2 separate regions of the Homo sapiens genome follow, and region 1 is linked to region 2. The links come from fine-mapping of genetic effects on gene expression. Tissue or cell type: subcutaneous fat. Region 2 holds a variant in brackets; the other region holds the start of a gene. All regions are shown on one strand. Distances are between the middles of the regions.

Region 1 (4,398 bases), 39 kb before region 2:
GATGGCAGCAGCCACTGCCATCACTAGCAGTGCCGATGGCTACCTGAAGCTGGAAGACGTAAGGACCACTTCTCCCCTAGGGCCTGTAGAGGGAGTGCAGACTTGTCCAGACCTTGATTTCAGGCTCTCGACCTTCAGAGCTGTGAGCAAATACATTTTTGTTGTTTGAATCCACCAGTCTGTGGGAACACATAGCAGCCACAGGAAACTAATACAACACCTGAGAGCCCCATCTGTAGTAATTATTCAATAACAGTTAGTCATCAGTCACCATCAACCTCATCCTATTTCGGACCAAACCTGGGCAGTGGGGACACATCAAGCCTACCATTTGGAGGGTGACTCTCCCAGCAGTGGGGAATGAAGTGGCACAGAGTAGCCATTAGAGGCCCAAGCCTGGAGGTAAAGGGGCGAATTCACCTGGGGGAAAAAGAGCTTTGGAGGCAGAATCAAAGAGACCTGGTGATCAAACTGCAGTCTCAAGGAAGCTGCCTTCCCTTCTAAATTGAGCAGCTAGGACCCTCTTAACTGAACTCTCAAAGTCTGGAAGGTTTGAGGAGGACAAGGAGTGTGATTTTGCACATGTCAAGTTGGAGGCCCTGCTGTGACACCCACATGGAACTGTCTGGTAGACAGTTAGATATTCTGGTCTGAAAAAGTAGGAAGAAAGTCCAAGTCAGAGATAAAGGTTAGAGAGTTGTTGGCACCTTTATGCAGCACTTGAAGCCCTGTGCAGGATATGGTCACAAAGAGAAGGTAAGCCTAGAAGGATCAATCCTGGGGGACTCCAACAGTTCCCAGACAAGAAGGGGATGAAATGGGGAGACAGTGGGAAAACAGGGTGGTTAGAAAGGGAAGAGAAGCATCCAAAGGGGTGCTGTCGGGATGCTAGGAGGGGATCCTCCCTCCTCTGTCTCTCCTGTTTGCCTTCCCATCATATAGAAACTGAGTGTATTAGATATTTTCTGCACTAATTAAGTATTTTCATTTTCCATTCTTAATTTACAACGGAATGAATTGGAATGAAAATATGCATTTCATTCACTCTTTTGGGAGCACAATTCTAGGGAATTTGTACTTGAACAATCCTTCACTGCTCCATAGCCACTGTGGAATCACAGTTACCCAACTATACAGCAGCAATGGCCAATTATTGCCACAAGAGACTATGATGGAGCTGACTACACGGTAATCATGCCACTAGCGTCACAGCTAGAGTGGTTCTCCCTCCACAGACCCAAAAGGCTGAACTGGTGAACCTGCTGCATCTGTGGGCAGAATTAGGATGAAAAGCACTACCTCTGTGAAATACAAAATCTCTGTGGAAGAAAAATCAATTCAGGTTAGAGGCGGCAGCTGAAGGCCATGGCTCCCAGCCTGGTGCGACAGCCCAGGGAGGGCGTCTGCCTCTGCAGACACAGCTGGGACTCCATTCAGCAGCCAACCCTTCCCCCACTTTCCTTGCTGTTTCCAAGATCCTATATGGGGATCGGGACTCAGGCAGGACCTGTTCTCTTCAGAGCTTCCAGGACTTCTCTTTCTTCTTTGCCTTTGGCCCTGTTTTCCTTGGAAAATCACCAGTTCTTCCTTTTTTCCTGTCCCCTCTTAGCCAGGCACTTCCTCGAGTGTTTAAAAACCCTGCGCGTTTTAGGGAGCGGGGATTTGGCAAAGGTTATGCGAAGGACTGAAAAGGGGCAGCGTCATGAAGGCCCTGTCATTCTCCCTGACTCCCCGTCTTTTCCTCAGTTGAGCATACTCCTAAGAGCGATGCCACACCCTTAAATACTAAGGCCCCTTTTTCTCAACAGGACCCTTTCCCCGGGAAAGACCCCAGCCCCGCCCCGCAGACCGGCAGAGTCTGCTGTCTTACTTGGCTGGAGGTTGTGGTGGCAGAGAGAGGGATCCGGAGCCCTGGGCCCAGGCTGTTCCATTCTGCCCCAGGAGGCGGCCGCGGGGCCCTGGCTCCAGCTATCTCAGCGCTTGCGGGAGCCGCGGGCTGCTTTGTGACGCGTCGCCATGGAGACAAGGATCGGGTTCCAGGGAGTTCTGCCCCTGCCAAGGGGTGCTGGCCACGCAGGAGGCTTAACCTGGCCGGCGCGGGAATGGGGTGCAGAGAGCAAAGAAATGTGGCTTTGATCTTATGGATGCCTTACTTTTACATTATTTGTACAGTTCTTGCAGTGAGCTTTCCGGACCACTGTCTTGTATGTTTCCTAAGAAAAGCAAAAAGGGAAGAGATTGAAGAGAAAGTAGATTTTCAACTACAAACTTTCATCCATTTGCTTTCAGCTTAAGCAAATGTGCGCAAAGTTGTCATGGATTTTTGCAGTCAATAAAAACCAAGCAAGAAGACTGAATCCCAAGTCATCTGGTATAAATGGAAGCAGTTTCTGTGATAGTTCCACGCGGTCAGAAGGGTCATCCTGGCTTAGGAGAGGGGCAGAAGAGGAAATGCACGCGTGGAAACAGGAGTGGGCAGGGAGGATGTGACACTGTCCTCCTCACCAGGCCACGTTCCTGGCACCAACCATAGTGTTTGTGAGGGTCAATTTAATTGTTCTTGTGCTCTCATAGAGGAAGCTGTGTCTTTCATCCCCTTGTAAGAGTTTTCACTGATGAAGGGGGTCTTTTATCTTCATATCTTGGGAACTACTGAAACTGTTTCAAAGAGTCAAAGACACCAATAACTAACAGAAATTCTTGTTTTCAGGGGCAGATAAGAAAAGAAACAATTTGCTGAAACTCCCTCTGCTTATAACAAAACTGACTGAAATCAGCCGGAATCAATATGGCCAAATGCAGTTTGCGCACAGCAAGCTTGCTGATGTCACAGCCTGAATTTCTACTGCATGTTTCATACCAACTCCCTCCAAATTTGCACATGGGACCCACCAGGAAGCATGAAGAGAGAGCCATGCATGCCTGAAGACTTCCCAGATGTTCCCTTTGCTTCCACCAATCACCTGCTAACCCCAGGATCCAACCCTAAACCTTTTGTAATAAAATTACTGCCCTAAAGCCAGTACAAGACAGATTTGAACTGGACTTTTGTTTCCTCAGAAGTTAACTTGCAATGTGAAGCTTTCCTTTTCTCAAAAACTTGGTGTCATAGTGTTGGCTTCTAGTGCAGTGAGCCCCTTTTGCTGGATAACCTTACCTGGTAATTTGACATACTAGGTGGTTAGTAACTACTGACTGTCTCCAGGTTACAACACAGTTATTACCCACTTGGGTGAAAAGAGAAGACAGGAAATACATTTTGGAGTTGGCTGGCAACCTGTTTACAAAGCAATTTACAACAGTTCCTTATTCTTAAGGGGCTATTCTAATACAAGACCTCAGAGAAACAGTGCAGTGTGACAAAGGAGGAATTTATCAAAGGAGACAGAAAAAGCATCAAGGTAAGGATCCCAAATATATGTGCAAGGAATGTCTTTAAAATGAAGAGCTAAACTAGAATTTCCTGAAGGTAGAGTTCTATCCATATAATGGAATGAATATAACACATTATAAACTCTCATGTTTTGAAGCAATGGAGGGTGGAACACATTAGAAGGCATAGATGTTATTAAAAGGAATGAGTCTAAATTAGGATTTAGTAGTGGCATCTAAATTTAAAAAGTAGCACCCAATAACAGATTACTGTCTGGAAATGGTAGAGCTAATTAGCATAGCATAATTTAAGAGAAATATATGTTTAAAATAGAGCAGCAAGTATATAGAATTTTGAAAGTGAATTCTTATTAATATCTTACAATTTGTCTCATTTTAGGCAAGCTGTGAAATGGTGCGGTAGGAACCAAATAGAGAGCCAAAGGATCTTTCTGTCACTGCAGGCCCTTAGGGGTAAGCAAATCCTTCCCTGATCCCTGGTCTCCTTATCTGTAAATGAGAATACCAGCACCCACCTCACTGTGCTGTAAACATGATGAGTTCTAACAATAATTTATAAATTGTAAAATCACACAAATCTAAGATATTGCTCTTGTTGCTATTCTGATCTTCATTCCTTTTATAGTCTTTCTACTTCAAAGTGTATTTTTGCGTGGGTCCATTTTATGGCTAGCGGTATAGCACTATTCCTGCCTTTGAATTCTGGTTGCCTGAGGCAACCCTTCTAAATGATTAAGTAGAGTATTTCCCCCCTGCTTTCTTCTCTCCCTCAACAAATACTGACTGTGCACTGAATATGAGCTGTATGATGGCATCGGGGCAACACCCTGATTATTATAGTGAACAACTTCCTAGAAAAGGAGGTGCCTGAGCTGGGTCCTCAAGGATGCTTGGAGTCAACCAGGTGAATAGGGGGAGGTGACAGGTGACACAAAGTAACGCAAGGGCCCAGAGGCATGGAACACTGTGTGTAGTCCCAAGACCTTTAGTAGTTTAATATTGCCA
Region 2 (4,398 bases):
GCTTAGCAGAGAGATGGAGTGGGGAAAGCTAGGCCAGCCCTCCCTTAATCCTATTTTGGCCTGTAAGTTACCGGGACAAGGGAAGAAATCCATGTTTTCTAAACTTTGTAGTTCAAAAACTAAACAAAACAAAAACACTTGTTTTGCTTCACCACTAAGTGATTTGTAAGTGCAGAAAAATCAGAAAGTATTGATTTAATTTTTTCAAATAATAAACAGAAGTCCCCTCTATCATCCCACCACCCAGAGGTAAGCACTGAATGCCAGTTACTGTGCGTCCCCCAAGCCTTTGTCTATCTGTTTAGAGCAGAGGGCATAGAGCTCCCTATGTCACCCAGGGCAGCTGGGTTGGTGCTTAGGACGGAAGACTTAGGGGCCTCAATATCTGGATTCGAATCCTGGCTTTGCCATTCATTAGCTGTGTGACTTTAGGCAAGTGCTTCCCTCTTTCCGCCTCAGTTTCCTCATTTGTGAAATGGAGTTTATTACAGCACTCACTTCTTGGGGTTGTAGGGAGGATTAAATGAATTGTTATATGTAAAGCACTGAGAACCAAGACTGGCACTGTCTCTCTCTCTCCATATATATACACACATATGCATGCACACATAGAAATATATATAATTTGTATGTACACTATGACATATATTTATATATGTGTGTATTTACTAATATGTGTGCATTTTTCCTGAATAAAATTACATCAAACTATTCATGGTACTGTATTTGGTAGCCTTTCTTTTTATGGCTTAATTATGACATCTATGACCCCATATTACCAATAATTTAAGTTGTTTCTCATTTTTCATGATTAAAATAAAAATACCGCCATTTACATTTTTGCACTTGTATCTTTGGCAACTTGTCCAATTACTGGCTGATAATTCACCCCTAACCTGGATCAGATATTATGCTCTTTTTCAAGGATTTTGATACATAATGTCAAACTGATCTCCAAACTAAAATTCCCAAAACCATAGCAGGAAGTTACCTATTTCCCAAAGTCCTAGCCAAAACTGTGTATTATTATTCTATTTTATTTTTCCCCACCACGTTGGAGAATTTTATTGTTTTAATTTTTTTAATTTGTTACCAGGAAGGTTAAAACTTTTTATGTTTATTGGCCATTTTTATTTTTTCTGCTGTGAATTTGCAATTTAGATCCATTGTTAACATATGGAGACATCTTTTCCTTATTTGTTTGCAAGAACTCTTTATATATTAAACATGTTACCTTTTAAAATTTTTATCATTTGCCTTTCTGCTTGATAAATTCCAAAATATATCAGAATATATTTTTTACCATTCAGAAATTTTGAATCTGTGTGTATGTGTGTGTGTGTGTTTTAAGCCCTTGAGTCTAGCAATATTTTTCACTATGACTTTGTCCTGAGATCCCCAGTTATAAAGTTTTTCTCTATTTTCCCCCAAATCATAACAATATTTTTAAAAATTTTCTTCCAATGCATTTATAATTTGATTTTTTAAGATTGAACTTATCTCAAAATTAACTTGCAACTAAAAAGCTGATATGTGTGGTTTCTTCTCTAGACTCAGTGATTCTATAAATTTATCAGTATCCAAGACTGTAATAGATAGATTAAACAAAATTTTGTCTATTTCTTTTTTTTTTTTTTTTTGAAACAGAGTCTTGCTCTGTTGCCCAGGCTGGAGTGCAGTGGTGCGATCTCAGCTCACTGCAAGCTCCGCCTACTGGGTTCAGGTCATTCTCCTGCCTCAGCCTCCCAAGTAGCTGGGATTACAGGCGCCTGCCACCACGCCCGGCTAATTTTTTATATTTTTAGTACAGACGGGGTTTCACCGTGTTAGCCACGATGGTCTCGATCTCCTGACCTCGTGATCCGCCCGCCTTGGCCTCCCAAAGTGCTGGGATTACAGGCGTGAGCCACCGCACCCGGCCCCAAAAATTTGTCTATTTCTTTGAATACCAATGTTCTCCTCTAAAAAGCAAAAACAGTGAAATCTCCTCTGCTTGTAATATTGTGAATAAACATGTTTCGAAAAGTGTC[A/G]AATGCTATAGCAGTATAACAATTATGACTAAATTCAGCTTCAGGATGAGAAAGAAGTGAGACACAGGAATGAAACATTTGAGTTCTCCCAAGAAGGGAGAATACTCGGCAATAAGTTTCCTTGATTTGAACTGATGAACTCACTAAGTCACACACTTGGGAGCCATTGGGGGTGGTGTAGGATAAAGGTATTTTCTGAGCATGTCAGTGATACTTTATACATATCACAGATTTGACTTAATACTGCCAAAAAAAAAGACCCACCAAGATTCAAGTTTAATAACTTAAAAAGTAAGAAGAGGTTAATTATCAGGTATTTTATATGAAAAAAATGCATTCCTTAAGTTGTTTTGATTCTCCATAAACCTCAGGCCAAATTTTTTAGATTTATGTAAAACTACCACCTCTATTGCACAGTACTTGCAAGCCTTCTCCCTTTTTTTTTTCTCTAATCAGAGTAGTGAGGATGAGATAGGTTCAGAAGCAGCAAGCCAGGCCACCCCACTCTTGTTCCAACATTCTGGGCTCTGCTCAGAGCCGCCTCCACCCACACCAGAGCCTTGCACAGGAATTCAGTGTGCTGTCACTTGGCGGCCTTTGCCGGAGTGGCCAGAGGGGGCGCTGGCGAGAGCTAACAGCCTCCCACCCTTGTGCTTCTTCCATTGGCCCTGGACGTGAATAAATCATGCCACTGACAACTGATGGGACTCAACTTCAAAGATGAGAGAAATTACCCAAGGGGAAACAACACCAAGTTTATGAGTGAAGAGTTAAGGAGCTGTTCTTAACATTTCTGAAAGGATACCAAGAACCTACTGAATAATCCACAGTCATTCATCTTTTTTATAGTTAGTTTGCTCAGGGTCCTGAAGGACATTATCAGAAACGTGAGACATTTGGAACAGTATTCAAGTATGTGAACTAAAGCTTCCCTCATTTTCTCAGATGAAAGCTAGTAAATGTAGCAATGAGAGATACAAGAGAGCAATGTCCCACCCTCATTAGCTCATTATGGGGCTATGATTGAATTTGAGGAAAAAATCTTGATTCTACAAAATGTGCCCTTCATTTTCTTTTTTCTTTCTGTGCTATTGAACACTTTGAAGATATACCCTTTTTTTCTTCTAAGAAAAGCAAAAAAAAAATAAGTGTGACAACACTTTTTTTCATGACTCTAAGTTTGTCCTACTTATATAAAAAGTACAGAATAACAGCTATCATTTCCTATATGCCTGGACCTATTAAGGTAAATACTATCCATTTTCTAGATAAGAAAAATGACTCTCAGAGAGAGCAGGTTACTTGCCTAAATTGTTGGAGTTAGGATTTGAACCCTGCTCTGTCTCACTCAAAAGCTTTTGCTCTTTCCAGTACTCAAGGATGAAAAGAGGAAATGGAACCTTGCTGAGTTTTTTAAATCCTGAAACAATTTTCATCCATCAATTCTTGGAATCTAATTCTTTGAGGTTTCTATTAGATCTAAAGAGCTAAATTTCTTGGTTGTGTCTTCTTTCATTCCATCCCTGGGGAACTACAATTCAGGCTCTTTCTCTGACTGCTTGGTTAGCTGGTCCCTCATTCCCACAGGGTGATCCTCCTTCTACTTTCTTGTTACTTTGCAATCTGATAGAATCTCAAATCTATATATTGCCTCACTCATGAAGTATGGATTTTTGATCTACTATAATACATGCTAAAATAGTAAAATTCAACTCCTAATGGTCCCCAAAAGATTTGAATGAAAGGACATTCTAACATACAGCCAGAGAGAGACTTAGACATTGAGAAGAATATAATTCAATATTTGTGAGGTATTCAGATGGTACTGAGTACTTATCACAACATGAAACAATTGGCATGACTTTCTACCTCAGAGGTCCCCATTCTCAAGGCAAATACGGCAGAAACTGTGGATATATGCAATAGAAAAGGGATTTGAAACAGCCAGGTGCAGTGACTTATGCCTGTAATCCCAGCACTTTGGGAGGCCGAGGCAGGTGGATCACCTGAGGTCCAGGAGTTCAAGACCAGCCTGGCCAACATGGTGAAACCCCGTCTCTACTAAAAATACAAAAATTAGCCAGGTGTGGTGGCCGGCGCCTGTAATCCCAGCTACTCAGGAAGCTGAGGCAGGAGAATCGCTTGAACCCGGGAGGCAGAGGTTGCAGTGAGCCAAGATTGCGCCACTGTTCTCCAGCCTGGGTGACAAGAGTGAGACTCCATCTTAAAAAAAAAAAAAAAAAAGAGAGAGAGAGATTTGAAAAACAAGGACCCTCCCTAACAAGTCATGGCAGGACTTGACATGTAAATACTATAATCGTTTAACTCTGTGAAACTTTAAAAGAGTATCAGAACATTAGAAATATCA

Alleles and levels. Alleles are on the strand shown, and positions count from the first base shown. SD is a standard deviation of normalised expression in the study named.
For the expression in subcutaneous fat of the gene that starts at base 2,039 in region 1, allele G in region 2 goes with a lower level than allele A (small effect, 0.28 SD a copy in GTEx).

What was found. PIP is the estimated chance that this variant, and not a neighbour inherited with it, causes the effect.
Region 1: TEX26-AS1 starts here. The variant in region 2 is the best candidate, but not a certain one, in a credible set for the expression of TEX26-AS1 in subcutaneous fat (GTEx, PIP 0.65).

The regions. Positions count from the first base shown.
Region 1 is chr13:30,930,249-30,934,646 of GRCh38, reverse strand. It overlaps TEX26-AS1 (TEX26 antisense RNA 1), which reads left to right and starts at 2,039. Exons shown (of 4, transcript NR_038287.1): 1 at 2,039-3,401; 2 at 3,773-3,846. It overlaps TEX26 (testis expressed 26), which reads right to left and starts at 1,991. Exons shown (of 7, transcript NM_152325.3): 1 at 1,871-1,991. The coding sequence starts at 1,931.
Region 2 is chr13:30,891,407-30,895,804 of GRCh38, reverse strand. The region is part of intron 2 of TEX26-AS1 (TEX26 antisense RNA 1); the gene reads left to right. Among named protein-coding and RNA genes, the nearest start is that of LINC00545, 11 kb to the right of the region's middle. The variant A/G (reference allele first, on the strand shown) is at 2,031.